2 separate regions of the Homo sapiens genome follow, and region 2 is linked to region 1. The links come from fine-mapping of genetic effects on gene expression. A gene starts in region 1. The other region holds a variant in brackets. All regions are shown on one strand. Distances are from middle to middle.

Region 1 (8,448 bases):
CACATAGAGGGCACAGACCCCTCTATGTTATTTGGCTTGTGTGTCAGTATCATCCAGTATCATGGTAAATGTAGAGTTTCCATTAGGTTTTTTAAAAGAAATTGACAATACTCCCCCCTATGACTACCTTGCAGGCCCTGCAGGGCTCTGAGTCTCCTAGATGCCCCCCAAAGCCCCTTCAGAACTTAGGAAACTGGGCTTGCCTTCCTGGCTTTCCTCTGAACCAGCCTTCACCCTCTTGGGACCCAGGTTTCCTGAATATAAAATCAAGGTGCTGGACTTGGGGATCTGTTAGGGTCCTCAAAGCTCCATGACTCCGGCTTGGTAAATACAGCTGTCTGTTAATGGCAGAACAGTGACACACACTCTTAGTAAATGCAGATGCCTTCCCAAGACAGCTCCACAGATGGCGCATGGAGGCACTGGGTATGTTGCTATGGCTGGCCCACCTCTCTGAATACAGTGCCTGTTTTCCACAGGGCAGTGGGCTGAGACCGTCCATCCACTACTATCACTGGAGCTACTGAATTTCAATAGAGCTCTGACCTTGAACTCTTCCCTAAACTCCGAAGGTCTGATGATTAAGTCAGGCCCAAAAGAACAAACTGCCTCTCCAACTGAGTCTCTTACAGCCTGGGTCTCAGGAAGATTATTCTTACTGGGAGGCCCAGGAGTCAAGGGGCTGAAAGACAAGACTGTAATTAGCTTTCTAGAAACTAAAATGTGTTTTGGGGAAGATCTTGGAGACCATCTAGTCTAAGCATCACATTATACACATGAGAAACACGACAGCAAGGCAGAGCAGGGCTGGAACCAGGCCTCCCAAGGTTCTTCCCACTTGGCCACGCACAGCTTCTCAATTTGCTCCAACTAATAAATGAAAGCTTTCTTTTGAAGTGTCACCTACTTAGAGCCAAACTGATTACTTTTACACCCATTAGATCAGGTAAACAACTCGCCTAGTATCACAGGCTGAAATTTGACACCTTTTGCATTCTGCAGTTAGGCAGGTGCCTACTGGCCAATGAGGACCATTCTGAACTGTGGCAGATGGACAGGCACTGGCTCTACCTCCCCAGCACTGGCATCTTTGAACAGTTGTAATTTAAGTGACAACGTGAAAATTTTATTGAATCCTATATTTTTTGTTTTATAAAAATTAGTGGAGGCCAGGCACAGTGGCTCACGCCTATAATCGAGCACTTTGGGAGGCCGAGGCGGGCAGATCACTTGAGCTCACAAGTTTAAGACCAGCCTGGACAATATGGTAAAACCCCATCTTTACTAAAAATATAAAAATTAGCCGGGTGTGGTGGTGTGTGCGTGTAGTCCCAGCTACTTGGGAGACTGAGGTGGGAGGACGGCTTGAGCCTGGGAGGCGGAGGTTGCAGTGAGCCGAGATTACACCACTACACTCCAGCCTGGGTGATAGAGTCAAACCTCGTCCAGAAAAAAAAAATGGTGGAAAATGCTAACACTAAAGTTCTGATGCTATTGACCTTAGTCTCATCCATGGGACTCAGTGTGACCATCTTGAGGCTTCATTCATTCATGCTATGCTCAATTGTGAAGGATAAAACCCACAAGTTTAAAAAGTATGAATGCGCTGAGTGTGAGTGCAGTAGCTCACACCTGTCATTCCAGCACTTTGAGAGGCTGAGGTGCAAGGATCACTTGAGCCCAGGAGTTCAAGACCAGCCTGGGCAACATGGCAAAACCCTGTCTCTACAAAAAATACAAAAATTAGTCGGGCACGGTGGTGCACACCTGTAGTCCCAGGTACTTGGGAGGCTGAGGCAGGAGGATCGCTTGAGCCCAGGAGGTCAAGGCTGCAGTGAGCCGAGATCACACCACTGCACAAAGTGAGATCTTTTTTCAAAAATAAAAGAAAATAAAGTACGAATAAAATGCTGGAATATGATACTAAAAACTGCTATAAGGAGAAGAAACTCTTGGCATTTCATGATAGCTTTAATTCTCCAGGATTGGCACTTACTTCCTTACATGAGATTCTACTGCTTGACATTTGTACATCTGAACTGTATATCCATAATTTTTTTAAAAAGGTAACATATACTAGCTGGGGACTGCCTTTGGAGCAAAAAAGGCTAGTTTGAGACAATCTGTAAAAACCTAATATATGGCCGGGTGTGGTGGCTCATGCCTGTAATCCTAGCACTTTGGGAGACCCAGACGGGCAGACTGCTTGAGCCCAGGAGTTGGAGACCTGCCTGCGCAACATAGCCAGACCCTGTCTCTATAAAAAACAAAAAACAAGAACCTAATAGACTTGGAACAAACACCCATTCAAAGGCCAGTAGAGTTTTCCTGAAGTCAGTCATCCAGTTGATGCAACAAAATGCAGCCACTCTAGTTAAGGGTTAAACATCCTTAGGCTCTTTCCCCTGTAATAATTCAGAATCAGTTCACAGATATGGAAAGTGTCAATCGCTTCAGAACTGCTGAAAGATCTAGCTTAGGCATGGGGCCCTTATTCACCCAAAAGCAAACATCTTCCTCCAATCTGTTTCTTCACCGGTAAACAAAGGTCAAAAGACCTCCACTGCTCACCTAAGAGGCAACAAACACAATGGGGATGAGCCCTCACTAAGTCCAGGGTTTCCAGCCTGCCATTTGAGGTTCCCACAAGTAGCAATACGGGGAGGGGTGCACGTGAAATTTACGACATCTAAAAAGGGTCAAAGGCAGCAGTGCAGTCCCCCAAGCGTCGCAGGGGCTAACTCAATATCCCGTTTCTTTGCGTCTGACTGGAAACCAACCCAGCGCGGAACCACTGGGGCCCCTCGCGGCGCCAAAATCTTGGCAGCACTGAAGGCGGCGGACCTCGGCGAAATAAGTAAGGAAATCCCAGGTCGATGAGGGGGCGGGGGCCACACCCGACACGCCCACTAGGCCACGCCCCACAGCCCCGAGCGCGCGCGCGCGCGCCCGCCCGCCCCGATGAATGGAGACGCGCGCTCTCGGCGCATGGGCCCGCCCCGGGGCTCCCGCGGGGCCGAGCCCGGGGAGGGCGAGAACGCGCCCCGGGCTACCTCGGAGCCGATCATGTAGAACTCGCCGTCGTCCTCCAGCTGGAACTTCACGGGCTTCTGCCCGAAGGTCTTGCTCAGCGCCATCATCATCATTGCGGCGGCAGAGGCGGGCGGCCGGAGCCGGGCTGCGAGGGATCAGGAGGGCTGGGGCGGGGCCGGGGCGTGCTGGGCCGAGGGAAACCGAAGCCGGAAGGCGAAATGCGGACCGGGCCGGGTACTGGCGCCTCAGCCGGGCTCCTCAGCCGCCGCCGCCGCCGCAGACGACGACCAGGCCGCCCTCAGTGCGCAGGCGCTGGCGTTGACGCTGACGCGCGCGCCGCCGCTCAAACAAAAGGCCGGGCGCGCCTCCGCGGACCCCTTAAAGGAGCCACGACTAATTTCTCTTTCTCCCAGGCTGCCTCCCAAGTCGTGGTGTAGAGGACTTCTCACGGACAAAAATAGCCAATGAGGTCCTGACTCAAGCAGTGGCTTTCCCAGTCTTACAGCCAGGACTGGAACTGAGCCCAGGGGAAAAGCAACGAAGTGAGGCCTGAAGGAGGAGGACCTAGTATCTGGAAGCCTGGGTGGTCTGGGCATGCTTTGGGACCCCAATCTCGTGCCTTAGCTTCCCCACCCCTAAAACGCAGTGCAGCTGAGCAGATAGGCAGGCCCCTAGGAAGAGATATCCCAGTTCCGGGCCTACGGCTGTCCCTGCAGCTGTGGAGGTGGGCAAAATGACAACAGCGGATGAGGCTTGGCAATGTTCAAAGGCCCAGGTGGTATTTGGTTTGGCTGGTGCATCAGATGAGCGTTGGAAGGGAGAGACACCTTCCACCTTCTCCATTCCTCTCTTAGCCTACACTCTGCTTAACCGAGCCCTGCAGTGGGGAGTGAAACCAGGCAGCCCAGCCCTGTGGCTCTGCCTCTTGGCTCTTACAGCGCGAAGCTAGTGAAACTAATGAAAGTCTGAAAGCAATCATGATTGAATAATGCAGGGAGTAAAACAGTGGCCCACTACTGATGATTTCACACCGTTCAATCTAATGAAATTGCAGCTGTGGCTGGGCTCAGCGGCTCATGCCTGTAATCCCAACTCTTTTTTTTTTTTTTGAGGCTGGAGTCTCCTGCCTCAGCCTCCCAAGTAGCTGGGACTACAGGCACCCGCCACCACGCCCAGCTAATTTTTTGTATTTTTAGTAGAGACAGGGTTTCACCATGTTAGCCAGGATGGTCTCGATCTCCTGACCTCGTGATCCGCCCCCCTCGGCCTCCCAAAGTGCTGGGATTACAGGTGTGAGCCACTGCGCCCGGCCTTGTAATCCCAACTCTTTAGGAGGCCAAGGCAGGGAGGATCACTTGAAGCCAGGAGTTTGAGACCAGACTGGACAAGACAGCAAGACCCTGTCTCTACAAAAATTCTAAAATAAATAAGCTGGGTGTGGCATGGCGGTGTGCACCTGTAGCCCCAGCTACTTGGGAAGTGGAGAGGGGAAGATCCCTTGAGCCCAGGAGTTCAAGGTTATAGTGAGCTGATTGCACCACTGCACTGCAGCCTGGGCAACAAAGGGAGACCCTGCCTCTCTTAAAAAAAAAAAAAATGCAACTATGCTATTACGAAGACACACATGGGGCTGGAAGGTAGGGCAAGGAGACACTGGAGAGTTGGGAAGGGCAGTGACTGAAGTTGCTTTGTTCTGTATCCTCACAGTGGTGGGAAACCAAAGTACAGTCATCCCTCAGTATCCATGGGAATTGGTTCCAGGACCCCCTGCAGATAATAAAGTCCACAGATGCTCAAGTCCATTATATAAAATGGTGTCATACTTGCATATAACCTACACACACTTTCCTGTATACCTTAAATCATCTCTAGATTCCTTATACTACCTAATACAATGCAAATGTTATATAAATAGTTGTTATACTATTGTTTAGGGAACAATGATAGGGAAAAAAGTCCGTACATGTTCAGTACAGAGGTAACCATCCCTTATTTATTTATTTATTTATTTATTTATTTACTTATTTTATTGAGACAGAGTCTTGCTCTGTCGTCCAGGCTGGAGTGCAGTGGCATGATCTGGGCTCACTGCAAGCACCGCCTCCTGGGTTCACGCCATTCTCCTGCCTCAGCCTTCCGAGTAGCTGGGACTACAGGCGCCCGCCACCACGCCTGGCTAATTTTTTGTATTTTTAGTAGAGACGGGGTTTCATGGTGTTAGCCAGGATGGTCTCGATCTCCCGACCTCGTGATCTGCTGGCCTCAGCCTCCCAAAGTGCTGGGATTACAGGCATGAGCCACTGCACCCAGCCTATTTATTTACTTTATTATTTTTTTAGACGGAATTTTGCTCTTGTCACCCAGGCTGGAGTGCAATGGCACTATCTCAGCTCACTGTAACCTCTGCCTCCACGTTCAAGTGATTCTCCTGCCTCAGCCTCCCAAGTAGCTGGGATTACAGGCATGAGCCACCACACCCAACTAATTTTTGTATATTTAGTAGAGATGGGTTTTCACCATGTTGGCCAGACTGGTCTCAAACTTCTGACCTCAGGTGATCCACACACCTCGGCCTCCCAAAGAACTGGGATTACAGGCACGAGCCACTGCGCCCGTCCGCATCCTTTTTTTAAACATTGTTTTTTCTACCCGAGGTTAGTTGAGCCTACGGATGCAGAAACCACAGCTATGTATGGCAGGCTGGGCTGTGGCATGAGCAGATAAACCACCACTCTGGAGGATGAACAGAGGGGACAAGTAGGAAAGTGGGGAGCCAGTTAAGAAGCCACTGTAGCAAAATGTGATGTAGAAATGGAGCAGAAGGAGCCCTGAGCACTGTGCCCAGCCCCAAGGGCCAGAGGCTTGGGGGTGGTGGACTTCGACCCTGGCTCCCAGGATAGGGCTGGACAGTGGCCAGGCCTCCCCATCCTGGCTGAACATTCACAAAAGGAGACCAAGCAGGCAGGTAGAAAACAACTGTGTTTAATGACAATCCTCAGTTTAAAAAAAAAAAAAGAAGAAGAAGGTTTATACACACTGTACACACATTTACAATGGCTTTGGAGGATAGCAGTGCTGCGAAAAGGGCTTCAGGAGGATCCGGCCTGGGACAGGATTGAGGTATGTTGCAGCCTCCAGGGCCTGGGGTCTCCTGCATGAAGAATACCCCTCCCCATTTGACTGTGAACTTTTTGGCCTGGATTCTGGAGAACAGATTTCCAGGATTGTCAGCCAGAAGGCAGACAGATGCAGGCACCTACCAAGACCTGACCTCAGGAAGTGGCCCTGCCCTACAGCCCAGTTGCTCAGCCAGGGCTGAAGGCCATGGGGCCCCAGCACCCTTGCTTCAGTGCCAGCCCCTGGAAGGAACCTCACAACAGGGATACAGCAAGGACACTCCAGTTCCCCCAGTCCTGCCATGGTGCTACCCTGAGGGACAGGGATGGAGACAGGGCAGCCAGGTTTGCCAGGACCTGCATAGCGGGCCCAAGACTGCCCTTCCTCTTAAGTCATGCCAAAGCCTCCCTGCCCAGTCTGAGACAGTCGCTGGCAGGTGACCACGACCTGCGTGGCCCTCCCGGCAGTTGTCATGGTGGTTGTACCCCACCCCATCCCCCTGAGGAGACATGGGCTCAGTCCCATGCCTGGTGCCCACAGCCACAAAGATGGCCATGGGTCTCTAGCCTGATATTCGTGGCCTGGCAGGGGTCAGCACCCCTGAGGGCATCCAAGCCATGGTCAGAGGAAAGTGTTGGCAGGCTCGGCACAGCCAAAGAAGTCAGGACCCACGAGACGGGGGAAGCCTTCCAGAGCCTTCACCTTCACAGGGTCAAACTTCCAGTAGAGGCGGCCGCGCAGGAAGTAGGCATAGCCTGAGAAGAGAAGGTGGTCAAGCCTGGGCGAGCGGACACTGGGCCCTACTCCTGCCTGTCAGGCTGTGCCCAGGGATGGGCACTAAGGGAGGGCTGAGTGGGAAGCCCTTGGCCACTGCTGAGTTCCTCGAGTCCTGCAGGATCCAGGGCCGGCCTTTCAGAACCTCTCTTCCCTCTAGGGAGCCCTTCTGCCTGCCCCGGAATCTGGGCTGGGCTAATACCCAGCCTGACAGGTACCCAGAGCCTCAGAGGCCTGAGTCCCACCTCTCAGGAAAGCAAGTCCCGTTGCCCCCACCACCCTCCACATCACTCTCTCCTGCATCTATTAAATTAGCCAGGCTATTGACGGGCACCCTGGAGTCCTGGAGCTGGAGGCTACCCTAGGATAGCTCTCCCAGTGGGTCCTGATGTGGGAGAAAGAGCACAGAAGAGGAGCCTAGCAGGGGAGGGAGCACTGGACTGGCTCTAGCCCCCTGTGGTTGTGGGAGGCTGGGTGGGTCAGTGGTTAGGAGCAGGGACCACCAGGGTAGTCCAGGTTAGGGGCCTCATTGCCTGAGCCTCTGTTTGCTCCTCTGGAAACTGGGTTCACAACAGGTGTCACATCAGAGGGCTGTTCTGAGAACTGGATGAGACCAGTAAGGAGCTTAGAGCATTGTTGGCCCTCAGTGTACAGCAGTTTATTGTTCTACTGGCTGTGGCTGAAAAACCAGGGTAAGACCTTGCACTTCTCTGACCCTCAGTTTCCTCATCTGCAATATGGAATGTAGCACTAGCCGGCCACCGAGAGGAGGGCAGATGGCTCTGGACAAAGGACCTGTGATGAAGAGCCAGACTTCCTGTGGCAGGCATGTGGGAGCCCAGCCACCACCAGGTGGGAGAAGCGGCTGCTGTGCCCACCTCCCACCAGCTGCCTCACCCCCAACGCACCATCAGCATCCTGGAAGGCAGCGTCGATCTCAGAGGGCACCCCTCTCCAGTCAGTGGCCCTGCGGGGCACGGGACTGTCTACACGCCGGGTGCTGGGGTGGAAACGCCAGTAGTCCCTGCCTCGGAAGAAGTAGATCTTGTTCTTCTCGGGACCCCAGACCAAGGCAGCATGGACCGGGAACCTCACCAGGCCCAGCTCGGTGAGGGGTGCGGGGCCCAGGACTGGCTTTTCACCGTCGTACACCCAGTACTGAGCACCTGCCGGAGAGGGAAGGCTGCAAGGACCTGCCCAGCCACCACTGCCATGCCCCGCCACTGTGGACCTGCTTGACCCCTACCACAGACTCTCCCAGCCTCAGTTTCCTCATCAGTAAAACATGCAGGCCAATAATGCCTGCTCAGCACCCCACCCGCAGAGGGAAGCGGGAGGCCTGGGATAAGCTGGGGCAGTGAATGCTCTGTAAACTAGTGCACGGGTGAGGTTACTCTCATCAGTAGAGGGCTGCCTGGGCGGCTGCTCCTTCCACTGGCATTTGGCTGTGACAAATGCCTACTGACCACTCCCTGGGCCCCTGCAGGCTGGACTGCCCTGGAACCCACGCAGGTTTCCCATGCT
Region 2 (8,208 bases), 35 kb before region 1:
AAGCGTGAGAAAGCCTCAAAGGTATCACCGCTCACACAGAGAAGTCTTTCTCAAAACAGTTTTGCAGGGAGATGAGGGAGGGAGAGACTCATGCATGATCCTACCTGAAGGCGTAGGTCTTCTGATGCCAGCTCAGCTGTCCCCGGATGCTGTATGCGATGGTGGTGACAAACTCCCCGCCCAACCCCAGCTCCGAGCACAGCTTCAGGGCAAACTTCTCTGGTGAGTTCTCCTTCTCTGACATGTCCCACTCAAACTGGTCCACCAGGGAAATGTTTCCCACATGGATGTTCAGCTGAGGCAACAACCAAAGGACACAAGTTAGAGCTTTTGCAGCCCAGGGAGGCCGCGAGGAGCGGGGCCCTGCCAGGCCTGGGGTGGGCCCTGCCCACCAGGGTCCACCAGCTGAGAACTGCAGGTGGTCCTTGTCCTTCCAGTTCCCCATCCCCAAAACAAGGCTGACCCCACAACCCTGTCTGCCATGAGGGGCTCTGGCTCAGGGCCCAGCACAGTCACCCTCGGGAGGCCCTGAAGTGACCCCGGGGGCACCTGAGTCCCACCTTACCTTCATCCCATCTCCCCTGTGCCCTGTGCTGGTGGGGACCTTCCTTTCTGCCCTTCGCTCCTGCTGCCATCGGTCTTACGTGACTACACCAGAAAGGCAGGGCTCAGCTAAGGCATCCCTAAGCCCTGTCTTGAGCCAATGTCTATGCCCTTTACAGAGCTTGCCCCTCTCGGAAAACCCTGCCTAGCGTGTTCACAGATGCACCCCACTCTGGGTCAACACGGTGAGGGGACAGGGAAGCCTGCAGGGATCACAGTGCTGGGCCAGCTCCTCCACATTCCCCAGAGGACTCCCTGCAGCACGTGACTCACAGCCAGAGGGCCCAGGCCCCGGGTGTGCTGTCAGGGGTTTTCCACTAGTGGACACCTGGGAAGCCAGCACCCAGCTGAGAGAACACAGACTGTACCCCAGGGGCTCCCACCTACACCTGCCCCCCTGGGGAGGCACCATTTTGACTTCTCACCCCTTGAGTAGGTGTGGCTGTTCTGAATAGGATGGACACTTCGGGGTCCAGGTTCATTCACTCTGCATCATGCTTGCAAGACTCCTCCCATTAGAGTGTGGGGCTGGGGTCATCCCTCACTGCTATCCAGTGCTCCACAGGGCAACCAGGTCACAGTGCACCTGCCCATTCATTGTTGGCCCTTAGCTTTTAAGTCAAGGATCAGGGTGGGCAGCTGCAGGGAAAACTCACCACTGCCTCGGAGTCCAGCCCTTCCGGGGACTTCTGCCTCCTTTTAGAGATTAGGGTACCCCAATCCCCGATCATGTTCATAAAGCCCTGTGCCTCTGAGCCCTGCACATCACCACCCACTTGCTAGAATGCTCTTCCCCTCACCTGGCAGGACCAGCCTCTTCTCAGCATCCTGGTCTAAGCTAAAGTGCCAGCTCCTGAGAGCTCCCCTTCCCATCAGCCCCTTTCCACACCCTTCTCTCCATTTTCTCCCCCTTTGGAGACAGGATGTCACTCTGTCACTCAGGCTGGAGTGCAATGGCATGATCATGACTCACTACAGCCTTGAACTCCTGGGCTCAAGAGACCCTTCTGCCTCAGCCTCCTGAGTAGCTGGAACTACGGACATGCACTACCATGTCTGGCTAATATTTTGTAGAGACAAGGTTTCTACAAGGCCCAGGCAATGTATCAAGTGTTTTGGGCAGAGAAGAGACCCTGTGGTTGAGCCTTCTGTTCCCCGCAGGCTTCCCTGCTGCCTCTCTGTGTTGGCCCAGGCTGGCCTCAAAAGATCCTCCCCCGAGAGTCTCCTGAGTAGCTGCGACTATACGTGCGGGCCACCATGCTGGCACCTCTCCTATTTTCTTCACAGCACTTAGGACTGTCTGAAACAATCTGAATCATTTGCCTCCAGGAATTCTAGCACAGGCAGGGTGTATTTGTTCTGGGAATGAAGGAATCCTCACGCAGAGGGAGGAAGCCGAGGGCAGAGCTGCAGTGTCCTGTACACGGCATGCAGCCAGGCAATGGGGACTGCAGTCGGGCCCCCATGTCCTTTGCTATCTCCACATACGCCCACGCCTGATGATGAATGGAATCGGAGGCACTGGCCCTTCCCAACTGGAATCTAATGCCAAGCAAACCACGTGGGTGCTGGGTCCAAAAAGAACGTGCAGCAGCAGACAGCCCATGGAACCACCCAACAGGACCCCATAGGACCATAGGCACATGGCTCCCACCCAGCAAGCCCTCCCTGCCCTGGGCTCATGGATGGAGTTGCCTGTCCCCTGCCATTCAGTCACTAACACATTCATTTATTCCAAAGTCTAGACTGTGTGTCTACCAAGGAGAGGCACAAGAGAGACAAACATTCAAAAGGCTGTTCTGAGAAAGGTGAGGTGGTACATGTCTGTAGTCTCAGTTACTTGGGAGGCTGAGGTGGGAAGATCACTGGAGCTCAGGTGTTTGAGTCCAGCCTGGGCAACACAGCGAGACTCTGTGTCAAAAAAAAAAAAAAAAAAAAAAAAAAAAAAAAAAAAAAAAAGCTATGCTGGTGGGGGCACTGACAGACACTAAGTAGGTTAAGTGAGCATGTGGTGTACCAGAAAGCACGGGAGTGCCAGGGAGGAAAGGGAGGGAGGGGGAGAAAGTCCAGGCTGGCCTCAGAAGTCAGGAGGCCAGGAAGGCTTCTAGGAAGGTGGCCTTTAGGAAGAAGTGAATGTGCCCAGGGAGCAGGAATGTGGCTCCCTGGGGGAGAACAGTCCCAGGTGGGGGACACAGAGATGTAAAAGACTGAGGAGCCAAGGTCTGGTACCCGGATCTGCCCAGTGAGGGGAAAAGGGAGGAGATGAGGGTGGCGAGGGACTGTAGCAGAGAGCAGTTAGGGCCCTGAGGCCTTTGGACAGGCTTGGCTTCCACAGAGGGATGTGGGAAGCTTCTGCGGTATTTTGGGCAGACAAGAGACATGGGCTGAGCTGCCATGCTGAGACCTCTACTGGAAGGCGGGGAGGGAGGAAGGGAGCCATCTGGCAGTGGCCTTGGTGGGGTAGTGAGGAGTGCTGGACTCCAGGTGGACTCACAGAGCTAAGACGGGGCCAGGACTCCCAAGCAGGTGCACAGCAGGGCCAGGCCCCTGCCCACCTCCCCAGCCCTGACTCACATCTCACCCCATGCACTCTCTGGACGGGGCCTGGACAGTGCCACAGGGTCTGATGGCTCAAACTGCAGCAGCACCATGTCCCCAGCTTCCTCCCCTGCCCCCCAACCCCTGCTGGAACTGGGCAAAGCCGACTTGGGCCAGGTGCCCTGGCAAGGGCAGCCAGGCCTGGGCTTTGGTCCCAGCATTGCCAAGAATATCTGGAAGATGCTGCTCTAACCTAAGGCACTCTTTCTGAGGAGAGAGATGGTCCTCATGTGCCATGGCTCCAAAGATTCTTGTTTTCCTTCAGTCATGTTCCAGGATCAAGACAAAGGACGTCCTTACAGAAACACCCAGCTCTGGCCAGGCACAGTGGTTCATGTCTGTAATCCCAGCAGTTTGGGAGGCCAAGGTGGAAGAGTTGCTTGAGCCCAGGAGTTCGAGACCAGCCTGGACAACAAAGTGAGACTCCATTTTCTCTTTTTTCTTTTTTTTTTTTTTGAGACAGAGTCAGTGAGATGGGAAGAGCCTGTTGCCCAGGCTGGAGTGTAGTGGCGCAATCTTGGCTCACTGCAACCTCCGCCTCCCAGGTTCAAGCAATTCTCATGCCTCAGCCTCCAGAGTAGCTGGGATTACAGGAACGTGCCACCACGCCCAGCTAATTTTTTATATTTTTAGTAGAGACAGGGTTTCACCATGTTGCCCAGGCTTGTCTCGAACTCCTGAGCTCAGGCAATCTGCCCACCTCAGCTCTCCAAAGTCTTAGGATTACAGGCATGAGCCACGGTGCCCAGCCGAGACTCCATTTCCTACAGAAAATTTAAAAATTAGCCAGGCATGGTGGTACGTGCTTATAGTTCCAACTACTCAGGAGGCCAAGATGGCAGGATAACTTGAACCCAGGAGGTCAAGGCTGCAGTGAGCCATGAAAAAAAAGGAAGGAAGAAAGAAATACCCAGCTCTTCTGAGTCCCAATTATAGATGGGAAACCCTGGGTGTGACCTTCTATTCCTCATGGGCAAGACAGGACACTGTTCCCAGGGTCACGGTGCCCAGGAGGCCTCTGGCCTGAAAAATGCAGTCTGTCCCACATAACACAGGCTTCCCTGGGCCAGCTGTGTCCACCCTGTGACATCTGGTCTGACCCAAAGGGCAGAGCAGGACACCTGGCTGGGGACAGTCTCTCAACCTGCCAGCTGCCACCATCCCCCAGGTGGGAATCACAGGTAAGTCAGAGGGTCACTGGGGAAGCCTCTTCTGGTGGGGCAGGGAACAGCCCCAGGAGGATTACAGCTGCTGGGCAACTTCCTGTATGGCTCCTCTGCAGGCCCCGTCAAGACAACAACAATGAAAATGGGCTCAATTCTGAGAAAAACGTTAAGGGAAGCTACCAGTCAGGCTTCATGAGGCCCCTTGTGTGGCCAATCCCAGTCATTTGGAACCACGTGGCTGGGTGGGTTAGCCCACACAGCCTCATCCTCCACATGTTTACAAGACAAAGAGAAGCACAGAGTGGAGCCCTCAGGGCTGCCCTCCAGAGCCAGCAGACCGTATGCAGGACACAGGCCAGGTGCTTGCTGCCACTCCCATCCCCACCCCACTTCTCTCCTACCATTGTCCCTTCTTTTCCTCCTAGCTGGCCATAATGTGAAACTGAAACAAATTTGTATTCCTCTCAAAAAGGTATTAACAAGTAAAGAGACTGAATCAATAATAAAATCTTCCT[GACAA/A]AGAAAAGCCTTAGACCTGATGGCTTCATTGGTGAATTCTACCAAACACTGATTGACTGACTGAGTCAGAGTCTCGCTGTCAGCCAGGCTGGACTGCAGTGGCACCATCTCGGCTCACTGCAACCTCCGCCTCCCGGGCTCAAGCAATTCTCTTGCCTCAGCCTCCTGAGTAGCTGGGATTACAGGTGTGTGCCACCATACCCGGCTAATTTTTGTATTTTTAGTAGAGACGGGGTTTCACCATGTTGGTCAGGTAGTCTCTAACTCCCGACCTCAGGTGATCCGCCCGCCTCGGTCTCCCAAAGTGCTGGGATTACAGGCGTGAGCCACTGCACCCGGCCATCTACCAAACATTTAAATAGGAGCTAACACCAATCCTTCTCAAACTATTCTTTAACTCATTGCCCTGATACCTAAGTCAGACAAAAAATACTACAAGAAAGGAAAACTACAGACCTACACCCCTTATGAATGTTGATGCAAAAATCCTCAAAAAAATGCTGGCAAACTGGCCGGGCACAGTGGCTCACGTCTATAATCCTTTGGGAGGCCAAGGCAGGTGGATCACCTGTGGTCGGGAGTTCGAGACCAGCCTGGTCAATATGATGAGACCCCGTCTCTACTAAAAGTACAAAATTTAGCCGGGCGTGGTGGCATGCGCCTGTAGTCCCAGCTCCTCCTCGAGAGGCTGAAGCAGGAAAATCGCTTGAATCCAGGAGGTGGAAGTTGCAGTGAGCCAAGATCATGCCACTGCACTCCAGCCTGGGTAACAGAGCGAGACTCTGTCTAGAAAAAGAAAAGAAAAGAAAAACTAACAAGTGTGAGTGAGGATGTGGAGAAACTGGAACCCCTGCGCCTTGCTGGTAGGAATATAAAAGGTGCAGCCACCGAGAAAGGCAGTATAGTGGATCCTCAAAAAACTAAACATGGAATTACTGTACGATCCAGGAATTCCATTTCTAGGTATACACCCAAAAGAAATGAAAGCAGGGGCCAGACACAGGGGCTCACACCTATAATCCCAGCACTTTAGGAGGCCGAGGTGGGCAGATCATTTGAGTTTGGGAGGCTGAGGCGGAGTTTGAGACCAGGCTGGCCAACATGGTGAAACCCGGTCTCTATTAAAAATCCAAAAAAATTAGCTGGGCATGGTGGTGGGTGCCAGTAATCCCAGCTACTCAGGAAGCTGAAGCAGGAGATTGCTTGAACCTGGGAGGCAGGAGTGCCATGAGCCAAGATCGCGCCACTGCACTCCAGCCTGAGCAACAGAGTGAGACTCCATCTAAATGAATGAATGAATGAATGAATGAATAAATGAAAACAGGGACACCAACAGATACCTGCACACCCAGGTTCATAGCAGCATTATTCACAATAGCCAAAATGTGGAAGCAACCCAAGTGTCTGTCCATTTAGGGATGAATAAATAAAAATGTGATAGATCCATACAACAGAATATTATTTAGCCTTAATAAGAAAGGAGGCTGGGCGCAGTGGCTCACGCCTGTAATCCCAGCACTTTGGGAGGCTCAGGTGGGCAGATGGCTTGAGCCCAGGAGTTTGAGACCAGCCTGGGCAACATGGCGAAACCCCATCTCTACAAAAAAAATACAAAAAATCAGTCGGGTGTGGTGGAGTGTGCCGGTAGTCCTAGCTTCCCAGCTACTCAGGAGGCTGCACCGGGTGGATCACTTGAGCCCAGGAAGCAGAGGTTGCAGTGAGCCATAACTGCGCCACTGCACTCCAGCCTGGGCAACAGAGTAAGACCCTGTCTAAAAATAAATACATTTTAAAAAGGGAAGGAAATTCTGACATGGTGCAACATAAATGAACCTTGAAGACATTCTGCTAAGTGAAATAAGCCAGTCACAAAAGGACAAATACTGCATGATTCCCTTAGGAATGTAAATGAGACACCTCGAGTAGTCAAATTCATAGAGACAGAAAGCAGAATGGTGCTTGCCAGGGGTGGGGGGAGGGGGAATGGGGAGTTAGTGTTTGATGGACAGTTTCAGTTTTACATGATGATAGAATTCTGGAGATGGATGGTGGTGATAATTACACAGCCATGGATGTGAATATACTGCCACTGAATTTACACTTAAGTGGTTAAAATGGTAAATTTTATGTTATGAATGTTACCACAATTTTAAAATATTAATCAAGAAAACAAAGTATTGGCCAGGTGTGGTGGCTCATGCCTGTAATCCCAGCACTCTGGGAGGTCGAGGTGGGCAGATCACGAGGTCCAGAGATCGAGACCATCCTGGCTAACGCGGTGAAACCCAGTCTCTGCTATAAAAAATACAAAAAATTAGCCAGGCGTGGTGGCAAGCGCCTGTAGTCCCAGCTACTTGGGAGGCTGAGGTAGGAGAATGGTGTGAACCCAGGAGGCGGAGCTTGCAGTGAGCTGAGATCGCACACTGCAAGCCAGCCTGGGCGACAGAGTGAGACTGCGACACACACACACACACACACACACACACACACACACACCCAAAGTATTTCGGCCAGGTGCGGTGGCTCATGCCTGTAATCCCAGCACTTTGGGAGGCTGAGGTGGGTGGATCACCTGAGGTAAGGAGTTTGAGACCAGACTGACAAATATGGTGAAACCCTGTCTCTACTAAAAATACAAAAATTAGCCTGGCTTAGTGGCGGGCAACTGTAATCCTAGCTACTCAGGAGGCTGAGACAGGAGAATTGCTTGAACCCGGGAGGTGGAGGTTGCAATGAGTCAAGATCGAGCCACTGCACTCCAGCCTGGGCGACACAGTGAGACTGTCTTGACTAACTAAATAAGATATTTAGTTGTTTGTTACTTGGGGGACCACAGAGGAAGTTGCTGGTGATTCCCCCACGTTATTTTCCAAAATCTTAGTAAAGTGCCACGGAGAACCACAGTGGGAAGAAGTCGGCCCAGGCTCCATCTGGTGCACGGGGCAGAGGCATCCCTCAGTCACAGGAGGCATCCCTCCCGAGGCTCCTCGACCCCAAAGACTATTTTCAGGAACCCTTTGTAACATGGCTCTTATTTTTATACATCAATGTTTTCCTAAAATGGAAGCCAAAGGCACAGCATCAGATCTAACCAAACCACTGACCTTTTTAGGGTCATCACATGTGCCAATTTCACCTACTTCTCATATCTTCCTATTTTCAAAGCTCCCCTCACCCTCAAGGCATAGTCTGGCAGTGGCGGCTCAGCACAGCAAGGATTATGCTATAGGCTCTGCAGGGTGCAGGCCTGCGCCCAATCGCCAGCCTCACCATTTCTCAACTGGCCAGTTTGCAACTTCCGCAGGTGATCTCAGCTCTCCAC

Evidence for each region.
Region 2: its variant is fine-mapped to the expression of SMARCB1 in whole blood (INTERVAL, PIP above 0.99).

The regions. Positions count from the first base shown.
Region 1 is chr22:23,781,868-23,790,315 of GRCh38, reverse strand. SMARCB1 (SWI/SNF related BAF chromatin remodeling complex subunit B1) reads right to left here and starts at 3,350. Exons shown (of 9, transcript NM_003073.5): 1 at 3,054-3,350. The coding sequence starts at 3,146. MMP11 (matrix metallopeptidase 11) reads right to left here. Exons shown (of 8, transcript NM_005940.5): 7 at 7,833-8,090; 8 at 6,000-6,905. The coding sequence ends at 6,772.
Region 2 is chr22:23,817,312-23,825,519 of GRCh38, reverse strand. SMARCB1 (SWI/SNF related BAF chromatin remodeling complex subunit B1) reads right to left here. Exons shown (of 9, transcript NM_003073.5): 7 at 105-295. Among named protein-coding and RNA genes, the nearest start is that of DERL3, 18 kb to the left of the region's middle. RefSeq lists enhancers at 1-303, 304-837. The variant GACAA/A (reference allele first, on the strand shown) is at 4,883.